2 separate regions of the Homo sapiens genome follow, and region 2 is linked to region 1. The links come from fine-mapping of genetic effects on gene expression. Tissue or cell type: pancreatic islets. Region 1 holds a variant in brackets; the other region holds the start of a gene. All regions are shown on one strand. Distances are from middle to middle.

The links. PIP is the estimated chance that this variant, and not a neighbour inherited with it, causes the effect.
Region 2: SMC5 starts here. The variant in region 1 is fine-mapped to the expression of SMC5 in pancreatic islets (PISA, PIP 0.95).

Annotation. Positions count from the first base shown.
Region 1 is chr9:70,747,148-70,755,252 of GRCh38, forward strand. The region is part of intron 8 of TRPM3 (transient receptor potential cation channel subfamily M member 3); the gene reads right to left. Among named protein-coding and RNA genes, the nearest start is that of MIR204, 59 kb to the right of the region's middle. The variant G/GTA (reference allele first, on the strand shown) is at 4,857.
Region 2 is chr9:70,254,909-70,263,013 of GRCh38, forward strand. SMC5 (structural maintenance of chromosomes 5) reads left to right here and starts at 4,070. Exons shown (of 25, transcript NM_015110.4): 1 at 4,070-4,355. The coding sequence starts at 4,171. SMC5-DT (SMC5 divergent transcript) reads right to left here and starts at 3,966. Exons shown (of 4, transcript NR_039990.1): 1 at 3,488-3,966; 2 at 3,007-3,027. RefSeq lists enhancers at 3,637-3,826, 4,157-4,356 and a silencer at 3,897-4,116.

The DNA.
Region 1 (8,105 bases):
AAGTGAGTACAAGAGAAACATAGAATAATGAATCAGACAGATTCTGCTCTTAAGAGCTTGCATGGGAAGTTAGAGATATACATAAATAAAGTATAAATGACAAGCACAAGAAAGTTACAAATAAAGGAGGCAAATGGATTCCAGGTGTGTGTGTGTGTGTACACATGCAAATGCAGACATGTGCACGGGTTTGGTAATTGAATATGACTAAAGAGAGTGCTCTAAGCTTGAACAATATCAGGGAAATAGAAAATTTAAAAATGACTGTAAGGAGATCTGTTTGGTTAGTGTGATGAATCCATAAAGAAGCAATGGAATTTTGGACTGAAACTGCAGGCAAAACATTCTACTTTACGTTCAAAAGAGTGATATGATTGGTTCTGTGCTTCAACAAGGGCTATCAGGCATTTCTATGGCAAGGGGCCAGCAAACCACTGCCTGTGGGTCAAATTTGTTTTATGGTCTGTTTTTCTGTGACCAGTAACCTGAGAATGATTTTTACATTTTAAAGGGTTGTTCAAAAACAAGAAAGCAAACAAAGAACAGTATGTGACAGAGACTGTATCTGGTATGCAAAACTTGAAATACTTACTATCTGCCACTTTACAGAAAAGTTTGCCAACCCCTGCAGTGTGTAGGATGCATTGTTAGGGGGATATTGGACTAGGCGACCAAGTTCATAGGGAATAGCAATAGTCTAGGCAAGGAAGAATGAGGGTATGAGTGAGAGTGGAACTTGGAAATGCAGGAGCCAGGGGAAAGCAAGGCTAGATATTTGTGCATTTGGGAATTATCTTGATTAAAATGGTAATTGAAGTCACAATAGTGAATGAAAGGGAAAAGAGCCAATAATTGATCATAGTTAAACATTTATTTTTAGAGTGGTGAGGAAGAAGAGGATCTAACAATGGAAAAAGAAAACAAATGGTAACAGAAGTGTTAAAGAAACAGAAAATTGAGAGTCTAACATGAAATTCACAGGAAAGTAACTTTAAGAAGAAAGAGGAAGTTGATAGCCTCAAATGCTATAGAAAATTTACTAAAAAGGTTGCAAAAGTTATGGCCTAATATCTTTGCTTCCATTTATTCCATTAGCACAATTTGTAAGTCCTTGGCTTTTGCTTGCCTTATGCTGCCCTGCCCAAGAGAGAATGTGGTGTTAATGAGGTATTAGAGCCATAGCTGCCAGGGTACAACAGTGACCTAGCCCTTAAGTTTAGCTTCTCATGTTGTATGTCTATTATGTTCTAAATAAAGGTAGATGCCAAGTCTCTTCTAACTCTCCTCAAAGTACTTCTTCTCCATGTCAACTGGTGGATATGTGATTGCTAGGATTTGAATATTTGTGTCTCCTTCAAATTCATATTGACTCTTAATCACCAAGATGATAGTATTAGGAGGTGGGGCCTTTGAGAAGTGATTAGGTCCTGAGGTCTTTGCCCTGATGAATGGGATTAGTGCCCTTACGAAAAAGGCCTGAGGAAGCTTGCTTGCCCCCTCCACCACATGAAGATGCAGCAAGAATGTACCATTTACGAGAAAGTGGGCCCTAACCAGATACTGAATCTGCCAGAGTCTTGATCTTGGACTGTCCAGCCTCCAGAACTGTGAACAATAAATCTCTGTTGTTTATAAACTACCTAGATTATGGTATTTCATTATAGCAGCCTGAACAGACTAAAACAATGGTCCCTGGAGACTTCTTGACTGACGAGGGTTAAGAAAAAATTAGTTTATTTTGTTTTTTATTTTTTTGAGACAGGGTCTTGCTCTGTCCCCTGGGCTGGAGTGCAGTGGTGTGATCTCAGCTCACTGCAGCCCCAAACTCCCAGGCTTAAGAGATTTAGCTAGAACTCCGGTTGCATGCCAACACAACCAGTTCATTTCTGTATTTTTTTTGTGGAGATAGGGTTTTGCTATGTTGCCTAGGCTGGTCTCAAACTCCTGGGCTCAAGTGATCCACACTTCTCAGCCTCCCATTACTAATATACAGTCCCAATGTCCTGGGACTATGGGCATGAGCCACTGTGTCCAGACAAAAGTTGGTTTATTTTCATTCTTGTGTATCCTGAATTGATGTACTGAATAAACAGACTTAGTACTCTAGTATGCAATGTTTGCTTCTTGATTTTAGAATCATTATTGCAAATGAGAACCAGCTGTAGGGAAGTAGGAAGTCCATGTTACCATACTATAAAGTCTGCGAGGTACATTACAAAAACCCCCAAGATATAGTCTAGGAATTAAGACGTTAAAGTAATTTTACCACTTAAATTATGATTAGAAAGCTATTTTTTTTCTTTTTACATTCAGGCCATGAGTGCACCAATAAATACTCAATAACTAGCACAAATCCAAAATAAGCCATTGGACAACTATCTTATTTTGGAAACTATAGGGCAGAGTTAAGAAATAGTAAATAACATCCTGCTTATTAAAATTGTTAAAGCAATTTACCAAAAACTGTGTAGTAATAAAGTCAGAAAACTGAAATGTGCTCTAGGTTCTGAGATAAGAAGAATAAAAGTCAGATTATTTCCTATATTTCATAAACAAGTAGTACTAAAATGAAGTCATCCTGGAGAAGGCAACAAATTGGTATAAAGTTATTCGTGCTTTATTTAATTTTTATCTTCTAACATAATTAAATATGAGCTAACATTTCACCTTTATGGAAAAAGAAGTCTGGCATATGAATATTTCATTTGGTAAGAGAAGCATAATGGATAAAGTCCATTTGACCCAGATGTAGATTCAATGGCTAATTATTGAAATCTCTCTTCCTTTCTCTTTCTTGACAGTCACTGCATGTATCTCATTTAAAATAATTACTATTTAATCTGGGTTGTGATAACCAACTAATTCTAGCAGAGGTTACGCACATCATAAATAGTGTCAGGGTCCCTACAGAAGCAACGATATATAACAGCTTTCACCAACACGCAGCTTAGACATAGGCTACTAGGCTGTACTGTAAGATTGTACTATGCATTTTTCTGTTGAAAATCAGAGTAAGCAGTTGTGAGATGTCATAGCTGGATGCTCGCAGTTTCATGTGATCATGGAAGTGGAAATGGCAGCAGAAGAGAATCTTTTCCCAGATGAAAGAAAGTATGGGAGTTTGGAAAGCCTAAATTATAGGCTGGGAAACAGGGTGGTAAAAAGAAGTAATTGAAGTGTGGGGATTCATCCAGACTGCATTCAGACTGTGGAGGGCCTCAAAGCCACATTAAATAGTTTGGACACTTGTTAGTAGCAAAAGCAAGTCCTTGAAACTATCTGAGCAAATAAGTTAACAAGTCAGGCCTGGGCCTCAAGCATCAAGCCTGGAGGAGTGTTTGGAATAGCTTGGAGGACAGACAACAAGGTTTCCTTTCTGGGACTAGGTAGGAACACAGAGTAATGGCCCTGGTGAAGAAAACTGAGGCTCAGAATGAGGATGATGGCACTGGAATCGAAGTAGAGCAGGCAGATGTGAGAGACACTGCCGAAAGAAACTCAGAATAACTTGGCCACAATTGGCTGGTGGCGGTGGCAATGAGGATAGGGGAACTGAAGCTTTCAAGACTGAGAAAATGAAACGAGAATTGGAAGGGGAAACATTGTGGAGATGTAGGGCTGGGAAGCACTGGAGGATGTTGGATAGGCTGATTTTGTTTCTGGACATGTAGAACTTGAAGTAATGACGAGACAACCAGGTGAGACATCCAAGCGCAAGCTGTAAGTATGGTTGGAGAGATTGAGAGAGCAAGGTTAAGGCCAGAAATAGTTTTGTGAATAATCTCCAATGAGGTTGTTGGTGAAGCCAACAGGAGATGTATGATATTACCAAGAAAAAAAAAAAAGGTCTTATAAGGAAATACCTAAATGAGACTTAGCAATTGAGACTATCTTACTGAATAAATGAATGAAATTTAAAATGTATTCAGGGTAATTAGCACAGAATACATGCAATTAGACTAATTTACCACTAAAAATAGAGCATCTAATATGACGTTAAAAACAAAAGCTATATATAATTTTTAAGAAACTCATCTAACATATAGGGTGCAGAAAAGCTGAAAATAAAAGGAGAAAAAGCATGAAAATGTCCTATATTGGGAAAGTACGAACTAAAAGAAGTTGATGTAAGTGGATTAATATCAGATGAAATGAAATGCAAGACAAAGCATTGTCAGGAATAAACAAAGTCTCTGAATAATGATAGAAAAATATTTCACCAGGAAATATAGCTAGTCTAAAAACTTATAAGCCTAACAACATCATCTCAAAATACATAAAGCAAAAATTTGACAGAATTTTAAAGAGAAATTGACACAATCTCCCATGATAGGAGACTTAAAATTACTTCTTCAAAAAATGACACAAAGAACAAAAGGACTGAGAAAAAAGAAGTTTCAGGTAATGTCCACATTATGGATGAAAGTAATGAGAAACGTAAGGAAAAGAGGAGGAGAAACAGAAAAGTTGGAGGACTAGCAGAAAAGTACAATGTCATTGAAATTTTAGGAAGGTAGAAAAGACAGAAGTAGAACCCAATGCAGAGGGAGTAATAGAGTTACTGTTCAAGAAATGTACATTTTCTAGAGAAAAAATTATGGAGGAAATGCAAAGTGATGGGATGTGTTGCCTGTTTAGAGAATGACTGTAGAGAAGAAGAGGGGCACTACTTCCTCTGATACTACATAGAAAAAAAAGGCATGGCTCAAGATATAGTCACACTGGGATAAAGGAGAAGAAAGTAGAGGAGCTTACATTTATGACCTTTGATTTCCTTTAAGGAGGAGTCTTCTGTTGAGCATGAGGAGAATGAATCTTTAATTTCAATGCAGTTTCAATCCACATCTCAACAGTGT[G/GTA]TGTGTGTGTGTGTGTGTGTGTGTGTGTGTGTGTGTGTGTGTGTGTGCGCGCGCGCGCGCATACACATGTACATGCAACCTGAAAGGCTGAGTTTAAAATTTATCTATAAGAGCAAAGGGCTAAAATAGTTGGCAACTCTGGAGAAGTGTCACAAGGAGTGTGACTTGCCCTATCATACATCAGGGCTTATTATAAAGTTACACTGATTAGAAAAATAGGGCACCAGGGAAGGACTAGACAAGTAGGGAAGCCAGAAAGGCTCATGTATAGGTGGAAACCTGCTTTATGAAAGAGCTGGCATTATGCGACATAAGGATGGACCATTAAATAAATGACGCAAGGTCAGCTAGTCATCTACATGGATCTCCACTTCATATCATACACAAAAAAAATCAGTTATGGATGGGTTACAGGTTTAATGTTGAAGGTGAAACTAGACACATTTTAGTAGAATATATAGAAGAATATCTTTTTGATATTTTGGTAAAGAAGAGTTTATTAAACATGAGGCAAAAAGCACAAAACATAAAAAAGGCTGATACATTTAGCTGCAGTCATAGGCTGCATAATGACGTTTCAGTCAATGATGTATTGTGTATGTGACAGTGGTGCCATGAGATTATAATATTGTATTTTTATTGTATCTTTTTATCTTTAGATATGTTTAGATACACAAATACCTAACATTGTGTTACAGTTGCCTACAGTATTCAGAACTGTAATATGCCATTCAAATTTGTAGCCTAGGGACAAATAGGCTATACCATAGAACCTAGGTGTGTAGTAGGCTATGTTGTCTAGGTTTTTAGAATTACACTCTATGGGCTGGGAGTGGTGGCTCATGCCTGTACTCTCAGCACTTTGGCAGGCCGAGGTGGGCAGATCACCTGAGGTCAGGAGTTCAAGACCAGCCTGGCCAACATGGTGAAACCCCATCTCTACTAAAAGTACAAAAATTAGCTGAGTGTGGTGGTTGGCACTCCCAAAAGCTACTTGGGAGGCTGAGGCAGGAGAATTGCTTGAACTTGGGAGGTGGAGGTTGCAGTGAGCCGACATCACACCACTGCACTCCATCCTGGGCGACAGAGCAAGACTCTGTCTCAAAAAAAAGAAAAGAAATACACTATGATGTTCACACAACAATGAAATAGCCTAATGACACATTTCTCAGGATATATCCCCATTGTTAAGTAATGCCTGACTGTACATTAAATTTGAGAATTTCTATTTATCAAAGTACATCAAAAAAAGTGAAAAAACAAGCCCCAAACTGAGAAAATGTATCTGTAACACAACCAACAAAAGATTAGTATTTAACATATATAAAAAGAATAAGAGGAAGTGGCTGTGGTTTGAAACTTGGAAAGAATATAAAAGATTTAGAACAATGATTGTAGGGAATAGGAGAGCCTATTGACTAGAGATAAATACGAGGATTGGCTGGTGTTATTGAAAGCCTAATCCAATTAGACTGAATGACTCAGCTTTGGGAGTGGTACGAGAAGCATCAGGCACATAGAATAGAGTAATTGACAGGTGAGGGAACCCAGATGGGAGCAGGGAGGGTGGAAAGACATAGTGCAAACTCTCAACAAGGCACAAGGTAAAGAAAACTATTTTGAACATGTTTTTACACAGATTGCTTGAGGCGTTTGATCTCAGGCTCGTGAACAGAGAAGCCTGGCATCCAGGTTCAGGTTCAATATGAATGAAGTGGTGGGAGGGGGGAGGTAGGGCAGTTATCTTTGGAGTGGGGAGTAGATTTTAAAGTCTTAGATTTTGGAGCAGCAAGGCTTTGAGTGGAGGCATGATTCCCAGGTGTGACTGGGAAGAAATGGAAAGATGAACTGATTGGACGCTAGGAGGTCTGGCCGCTGTCAGGGGAGTAGAGTGAATGATAGGACTCACCAGTGTGGAAGCAGAAGGTGGTGAACTAGGAGCAGGGCTGGTGTTGTCATCACCATGACTTGTTTAGGGCCACACAACCATGGGGCTTACAATGCCAAGTCTAAGTGGTCCTCCTACACTCCAGGGTATCAAAAGCAAATGTACTGCCCCAGTCTGGGGTTGGTGGTTTGGCAGTGGCGATAGAGGAAGGCTTCTGCAGGAGCTCAGAGGACAGACAGGAGCTCCAGGAGGCAGCAGCAGAAAAGGAGCTGGCACTGCCCTCTGGAACATAAGGCTCTTGGTTTCTATGCACATAATCAGCCTCACTGTGTGCATGGTCACCTGTGTCCCCTTTTCCTGGTCTTGATATTCTTTATGACCAAACCCCTCTTGAGGAGGAAGATAATAGAGAGACATCTGATCTGTGACATCTGTTCCCCAATGAATATGTTGCAGATAGTCTTTATCTCTTTAATTTCTATTCTTTACCTGAAAACAATGATAGAACTTAGGTTATAGGTTGATTTCTAGAAGGACCTATCTTTTTTAAAGGGGACAGGTTTTGAGTAAGCAGAGGAGTGAATTACTTCAAGATCTATATGAAATGAGCAGAAAGTACAGCAGTATCTGTGTGAAGATGTCGTGAGGGGCTGCCCCACCTAGCTTGAAATTGCAGGCCCAGGGAATATTTTTCATGAGGCCACAGCACCCAGAGGCCCATCCATAGTGCAGGCTTTATTATGTAAGTCAGTTAAGTGCTGGGATGAGAAAGATATCACATCAACTCTAGAACCAAATAGCTTAGCCAAACTTGGCAACGGTTAGACTGGCCTCATAATATTATACCCCATATAGTTTGTAAGGGGAATCAAAAGAAACTTGAAGGATACAAGAGAAAAGAGAAACTCTATGACGATGCAATGCCTCCTTGTTTTGTGTGCTATGCTATGGAGCCTAATGAGTAGAAAACACGGGGTCTGCAGCAAGACAGTCCTAGCTTGGCTCTTCCTGGCTCTGTACATCTCCCCACCTCTCTTAGCCTCAGTTCCTTTCCTTGTCTCTGCAAGAGGAGAAAACAATGCCTACTTTGTGTCTACCTTATTTTCAAGGCATCTGGTACCGTCCATGTACATAAGTAGTCCCTCAAAATTTGAAATTATAGTTATACTGTAATTTTGATTTAAAAATTTCTAACTTATTTTTGCCCGGATGTGGAGATAAATTGTTGCTTCTTAAGAACACACAGGCCAACATTCAAATTTAGGAAATACAGAGAACACCACAAAGATACTCCTCAAGAAGAGCAACCACAAGACACATAATTGTCAGATTCACCAAGGTTGAAATGAAGGAAAAAATGT
Region 2 (8,105 bases), 490 kb before region 1:
TAGAAACACAATTTGATTAGTTCACTAAAGACTAATCACATAGAAGGAATACATTCTAATGTTTGATAGCACAGTAGAGTGACTATAGTTAACAATTATCTATTGTATTTTTCAAAATAGCTGGAAGACTTGAAAGGGACCCATCACATAGACATTATAAATACCCTAACTTAATCATTACATATCATACGCATGTAACAAAATTGCACATGTACCCCATTAATATGTACAAATATATATATATTCAAAAAATAATTTTTAAAAAGCTGAGGAGGAAAGAACAAATTTTAAAAAGCTGGAGGGGAAAGAACAAATTAAACTTTAACAGAAAGTTAATTACGAAGATAAGTAGAAATTATGAAATCAAAAGTCAACAAAAGCAAAAATCAAGTTGTTCCTTTAAAAAGATTAATAAAACATACGTAACCTCTACTAGATTAATAAATGAGAGGAAGAAATGAACAATTTACCAGTATCAAGTGAGAAAGAGGAAGCATCACTATAGATGCTGCAAACGTTAATGGATATTAACACATAACTTCATGTAATAAGTTTGACAACTTAGATGAAAAGGACAAATTACTTGAAAAGCACAACCTATTAAAACTGACTCAAGAAGACACAGAAAATCTGAAATTATTTAATCATGCTATTCACACAGCTACTTCAGAGGCTCCAAGTCTTATAATGTGGGGTTTCTTGGCTCCTTACCCCTCTCCTGGGGGATCTAGGAAATAAATGTTGCTATTGATTGCCAAAAAAGGGAAGAAAAAAAAGGACTGATCATTGTACAAAAATGATGACTAGCTCCCTGCCCTCAGCTCCCATTACTAATGTCTATAATTCTTATTTGTTCATCAGGGTAGATTCCCCTAAATGTAGTAACTTCATCAAACAATCTGACTTTTCTACAGCTCTTGAAGCAGAGCCTTTACTTTTCAAAAAATTCATGCTAGCAACTCAGGGAAGGACAGTATTGTGCCCTCCTGAGCACTGAGTTTTTTCGTTACTCACCGCCATTTGAACAGTTTAAAAATTATTCTTTATTTTTGTTGCAGTCTCACCAACGCACCTTAACGTAGCAGTTTCTCATTGTCTGAACTAGTACCCTGGGTTCTTTGTCCTCACGTCCAAGAAAATTAAGGAACGTGGACACAAAGGTGGGGTTGGAGCAAAAGTTTAATAAGTGAAAGAAAGAAAAGAAGCTCTCTGCATTAGAGAGGGGAGTCTGACTGGACTGCCAAGTTGTAGTAAAAACGTCAGGGTTTTTATAAATGGACTAGTGAGGAGGGGTGTCTTATCTTCCCAGGGCCTGAAGATTTAGTTGGGACCAGGTGTGCTATCGGCATAGAGCAGAGTTCCTAACAGCCTTTACCCAATTCCTTGATCACATAAGCAGGCTTTTAGTTTATGCTGCTCTGTGCTGCTTTGTGTCGCTTAAGTTTCTGTGTCTGTTCCCAGACATTTTCTTGCAGCTGCAGGCATCCCCCAACCCTCCCTGTATAAGCTTCTCGCTTCCGTATCTTAGTGGGCCTAAACGGAAAGGAATGTACTTATTAAGTCTCACAGTTTTTACTGGGGCCCATTGTATGAGTATGAAGTCGAGACTCTCCCACTCCTGTGCTTGTTTATCTGTGCTTAAAGCTGTCTATCTGTCCAGGTGCAACCTGAGGTTTTCCCAAGGTTGTTTTATTTTTTGCCTGTTGCTGTGACTTTTCAGGTAGGCTGCTGCTGCAGTCTGAATTTTTTCAATGATTTTTCCTTCCCGTCTCTCTCATTTTCATTTGCATTTAAGAAAATTTCCAGTAACTACGACAAGTTCACATGCTTTTTACTTACTCTATTTTCTCTGGAGCGGAGTCCTTGTGTGAGAGGAAGCAGCAGAGACCTGGGAAAGGAGCTTTGGTCTAGGAGTCAGGAATCAGGGATCTACTGCAATAGCTTTCTAAGTGGCCTTCCACTTCCACACTTGGTGCCCTCTAATCCATTTTCCACACAGCAACCAGAATTATTATTTAAAAACTTTAAGGCCAGGCACAGTGGCTCATGCCTGTAGTGCCAGCACTTCGGGACACCGAGGTGGGCGGATCACTTGAGGTCAGGAGTTACAGACCAGCCTGGCCAAAATGGTGAAACCTCGTCTCTACTAAAAATACAAAAATTAGCCAGGTGTGGTGGCATGCACCTGTAATCCCAGCTACTCGGGAGGCTGAGGCAGAAGAACCGCTTGAACGAGGGAGGCAGAGTTTGCAGTGAACTGAGGTGGCACTACTGCACTCCAGCCTGGGCGACTGGGTGAGACTCTGTCTCAAAAAAATCAAATAAAAAAAATCAAATAAAAAAATTAAAAGCTTTAGTCAGAACATGGCCCTCTCCTGCTTAAAACTTTGCAATGGCTTCCCATTGCTTTAAAAATAAAATTCAGGCTTTTCCACGATGGACAAGGTTCTGCTCTGCAACCTTGTTCACTGCTCTGCAGCAACACTGGCCTTCCCACCTCAGAGCTTTTGTCCTTACTGGTATGTTCCAGCAAAATTCTTTTGCCTGGGGTGCTCTTTTCTCAGATCGTCACAGTTTCTTCTCGTCCTTCAGAGTTTATCTTAAACACCACCACCTCTCTAAGAGGCCTTCCGTACCTCCCACCCATCAGGTTCATTTTGTTTTCTTCCTAACACCTGTCACAGTCTGACATTATGCTAATCATTTGTTGTGTCAGCCTTAAGTAGTGAAATTCAGAAAATATCATTAAGTATAGAGTTTATTCTAACGCAAAGCTTGAGGACAGCCACCTGGAAACACCAACTCCAAACAAATAGGGTCAATGTTCCAAAGTGAAGTTAAGGTTTCATTTACACAGGCAGAAACAGAGAAGGTTCAGCAGGAGTACATTTTCAATACAAGAGCAGTGCATAAATTACAGCGATTAGATTAGTTATAGATAGCTACATTCCAAGGAAGATAACTATATTAATTTATGAAGGGGGTAGTGATCTGAGGGGGTCTTACCTCTGTCTCTGTTTGGTCTTCCTGATTATAGGAAAAAACAAGGCAGACATTGCAGCTGTATGCCATGGGACTCAGGCCCCATCGCCACATTCTTCGCAAGGCTCAGAATAATTTAAAGTTCCAACAGCTTTAAGTTTGAATTATTTAATTTCACAGTTGATTCACTTGTTCTTTTCCTGTCTCCCACAATAGAAAATAAGCTCCCAGGGATGCAACCTTGGCAGGCTCCTAAACTGCCACGGCTCCAGTTTCTTGTAGATTAGATATTCACTGTTGGTTAAATGAAAGAAGTTCTAGACAGGCCTCGGTGTGCTGCCTCCTCTTTAACGAGAGGGCTTACTAGATGAATGTGAGCAGACGGAAGCAGAACACCCTCTTAATGAAGGCAGCGCATTCCAGCTCAGGGATTTCTAGAAACCTCGGGGGCGGAAGTTTAACCAGAGAATTAGGAGGCAAGGGGAAGAGTAGCAATGAGGTTAACCTGTGCAGTGTAGTCATTTCACGAGTTTGAGAACGCCTAGCACGATGCCTTAACGGAGCGTCGGGCACAGAGTCATTTGGGAGGATTTCTTTTTCGGATTTTTGAGACAGGAACCTGATTTGAAGCAACAGGGAAGAACACCAAGAGGACGAAGAGCCAACGACGGGCGTGCCCGGGAGCTCTCACCTGGAAGGGGTGGGAGCAAGCAGGGCCTGACGTCCTCCCGCCTTGGCGGCCGTGGACGCCCCAGGTGCCACCCACAGCAGCCTCCCACCACACATGACTGAGGCTCGGGAAGCAATAAAGTGGCTTTCAAAATACTAAACGCAATTGAGATTTTTTCCTGAGTTAAAACAAAAAAAAAAAGGAACTGAATGCCGAAATATACGGAGAAGAAACTCCAGTTGCCACGTCCCCGAACGTCTCCACCCAGTCCTGCCTGCTGTTTCGCCCTCAGTCTGGGCCTCGCACAGCGCGGCGGAGCGCGGGAGGGGCGGGGCGGGCCTGCTGACGTCGCCGGACCTGAACTGCGCAGGCGCGGCGCGAGATCGCGGGAGCGAGCGCGCGGTAACAGTTCGCGGCAGTTCGCGCGGGAGCGGGGCGCCTGGGTGGATGGGCGCTTGGGCGCCTGGGCTGCCGGACGGTGGGAACGGAAGTCGCTGTGGGACGCTGAGGAAGCCAGGATGGCGACTCCGAGCAAGAAGACGTCAACTCCAAGCCCCCAGCCTTCCAAGAGAGCTCTCCCGAGAGACCCTTCGTCGGAGGTCCCGAGCAAGAGGAAGAATTCGGCCCCGCAGCTGCCGCTGTTGCAGTCGTCCGGGCCTTTCGTGGAAGGCTCTATCGTCCGCATCTCGATGGAGAACTTCCTGTAAGTTGCCCGGAGGCCGCGCCGCGGGTGTGGAGGTGTGCTGGCCAGCAGGCCCCGGGGCTCCGGCAGCGCGCGGGCGTGGGCGTGTGGGTGTGTACCTGGCTTGTGGGTCTGGCCTTGAATTCGTGCCGGGGTTCCCTTGAGGATTTTCCTACGTAGGCTGTGGAGATTGACGTGTATGATGTAGGAGATGTGTGCCTTGGGTGATGTGGTTTTTAAATTTAGTCAGCCAAGGTTTTCCAAAGGTGTCATGTAGCAGGTAGTGGTTGTAGGAGGGAGTAGGTCTCTGCCCGCTGGGAGTCGCGATCCATAGCGGCCCTGGTCTGGAATTCACAGAAGTATTGTCCCCGGGAACTTAAGAGGAGGCAACAGTTAATTCGGCGTGATAGTGATGCTGTGGCGGATTCTTAGGGTAGGCATTTGCCAGAGAGGAGTAGATAAGACGGTAAAGGTTGTTCGGGAATGGAGGTTACAGGTACAAAAAAATTAAACACTTACTGGCAATTGTTGGACCTCCCTACAAACCCTTGACCCCACTAAACCCAGTTTTCTTCCCTGGTTCCTCCCTCTCCCCTTCAGACAACTAGTTACCGCTTTAGAATTTAGTAAGTTTTAAATATATCATGTATTTGCCTAGCACCTTCCAGTTCATTTGTTCCAGGTCTTTTTTTTTTTTTTTTTCCTCTTTTTTTTTGAGACGGAGTTGCGCTCCTGTAGCCCACGCTGGATGGAGTGCTGTGCCGCGATCTCGGCCCACTGCAACTTCCGCCTCTCGGTTTCAAGCGATTCTTCTGGGTCAGCCTCCCGAGTAGCTGGGACTACAGGCGCGCGCCACCACGCCCGGCTAGTTTTTGTTTTTGAGACGGAGTGTCATACTGTCGTCCGGGCTGGAAGGTAGTGGCGCAATCTCGGCTCACTGCAACCTCCGCCTCCCAGTTTCAATCAATTCTCCTGCCTCAGCCTCCCGCGTAGCTGGGATTACAGCCAGCCGCCACCACGCCCAGCTATTTTTTTTTGTATTTTAGTAGACTCGCGGTTTCACCGTGTTGACCAGGCTGATCTGGAACTTTTGACCTCAGGTGATCTGCCCGCCTCGGCCTCCCGTAGTGCTGGGATTACAGGCGTGAGCCACCATGTCCGGCCGGAAGTCTTTTTAAAGCTTGCACATAGTGGCATAAGGATAACAGAATTGTAATAACAATACTACCTTTTTTTTTCAAGCACCTATTGTGTGCCAGGTACATAGTGCACTCATTCTTTCTTCATAACAACTCTATCTTGATAATTTCCATTGCTGAAAGAAGCTCAGTAGGTTATTTTGCCCAGTTTTACGCAGCTGTTACATAGTTGCATTGCTATTTGAATCCAGATCAGGAAAGATAAATGTAATCAAATGAGTTAGATACCATAACAACATATATCAGGATCCTTCACAAAGGATGAAGTGGTTAGTTTTGTCTACGAGTATGAGAAAGGGCTTTGTAAAGAAGATATGAAAGTCTTTGGTCTTGCTCTGTTGCCCACGCTGGAGCTCAGTGGCATGATCAGGGCTCCGTGAAGCCTGGACCTCCCCTTCTCAAGTGATCCTCCTACCTCAGCCTTTCAAGTAGCTCGGACTATAGGCGCGTACCATACCTGGCTAATGTTTTAAAATTTTTTTGTAGAGATGGGGTTTCACCATGTTGCCCAGGCTAGTTTCGAACTTCTGGGCTCAAGAAACTCACCTCGGCCTCCCAAAGTGCTGGGATTACAGACATGAGCCACTGCACCCGCCTAAGAAGATAGGAAAGTCTTGCAAGAAGTGAAGAGCATTGAAGACAGAAGGAACTGTCTGAAATAGTTTGGTATATTTAGAAAGCGTCAAGTATTTTAGTAAGGCAAGAATATAGGATGTGAATGAGTATTTGGACAAAGGGTAAGCAACCATTCAGGGGCCTGTATGTTTACTATGCTAAGAAGTTCCGACATCATCCTGTAGGCAGCCACGGTGTGTTTTCAACAGGGAATGACGTGTGTTCTGTGTTATTCTGGAAGCACTGTAGAGGATGATTTAGAAAGGGTGCAAGATTGGAAGCAAAAAGACAATACGAAGGCAAGAGATGATCAGAGTGTGAAGGAATGAGATTTGACAGGATCCAGCTACAGAATAGTTGTGAGGCATGGGGGAAAGGGAGGAATGCAGCATTTTTCCCAAGTGTAAGAGCCTTAGCTAATTGATCAGGTGCTATTCAGAAGAGGGAGCAGTTTGAGGAGAATAATAAATGCCTCTTAGATCCTGTGACTTAAAGTTTCCTTTGTGGCATCTAAGAGAGATGTTCTATAGGCAGAATGTAGGAGTCTGGAGCTTAGAGGAAAATATGAACAGATGAGAGTTTTGGGAGTCATGCATACAGGTGATTGATGAAGTTGCAGAACTGGTTATGATTGCCCAATAGGAATTATGAATTGAAGAACTAGAAGACCATGTACAGAGTCTTGGGAGAATGCCTACATTAAGGGTGAACTGAAGAAGGACTCAAAGTCAGAAGGAACTATTCAGGGAGGTAAGATGAAAACAGTGGGAGACAATTATCAAAGAAGCCAAGGAAAAAGAATGTTTCAAAAATATCACCTGCTACATTGAAGTCAGATAGCGGGACTGAAAAGAGCCCACTGCATTTAGCAATTGGGAAATCTTTGACCTTTTAATGAAGCAGTGGAAGCAGAAAACTTTGCAGGCCGGATGCAAAGAGAAGAAAGAGAAGGTAGCTGGAAGTGCAGAGGTTGGTGAGATGCTGTTTATTTTAATGAGGGGATTTTGAGTTTTAGGCATGAGGTAGAGAAAGATGCGCTTAGAGAATTAGCAAGGAAATAAGATGGGTAGTTAGAGAATGTAAATGGCCTGGAAGAGAGTAGTGAGTGAACCAAGTCAAATGGAGTTGGGAGTGGAGGAAGACACTTGGAGGCTGAAGGAATAACATGTGCAAATACTTCAGAGCAATAAGGAATTATAGTCACAAAACTGAAAGAAGTACATTATAGGTAGAATTTAGAGGTCTAAGGAGAGAATAGGGAAAGGAGATAAAAAGTAGAAAAAGATGAAACTCGGCTGTGATGGGTTTTTCCTTAATTTTTCTTTTTTAACAAGTGACATCAGATTTACAATTCTACCAGCATCACTTGGTGATTGATTGGATGATGGAGTGGTGGTTTGGGTGGAGTCAAAAGAGATGAAAGAACCAAAGAGGATGCAAAACTAATGCCTAGGTTTCTGATTTGGTCAATGGCATGAATGATAATACCATTCACTAAGAGACCACAAGAGTGGTTTTGGATGGGAAAGATGGTGGATTTCGTTTTAAATGTGTTAAGTTTAAGATGACTGTTATGGGACATTCAAATAGCGTTATTGAGGTGACCATTGCATATAGAGGTCATCTGGACTGCTTTCAGCATGTAGATAGTATGCAAAGACTTGGAGAAAAAAAGGAATCATTGAGGCCATAGAGAATACATGAGATACCTCGTGAAGTATATGGAATGATAAGAGGGTGGGTCTTTACCAATAGCTCTTTCAGAGGGAGCTCAGAGGAAAGGAAACTCATGATAAGGGAATTCCCAATAAATACATCGTAGAATCAGAAGATTGATTTTAAACAGTGCAGACACTTGATCTGGGTAGCTAAAGGCAAGAAAAATCCCCCGCCTACCCCCGCCAAAAAAAAAAAAATTGCAGAGGCTTTGTTTTTGGCAACTGTCCCTATTTGTAAT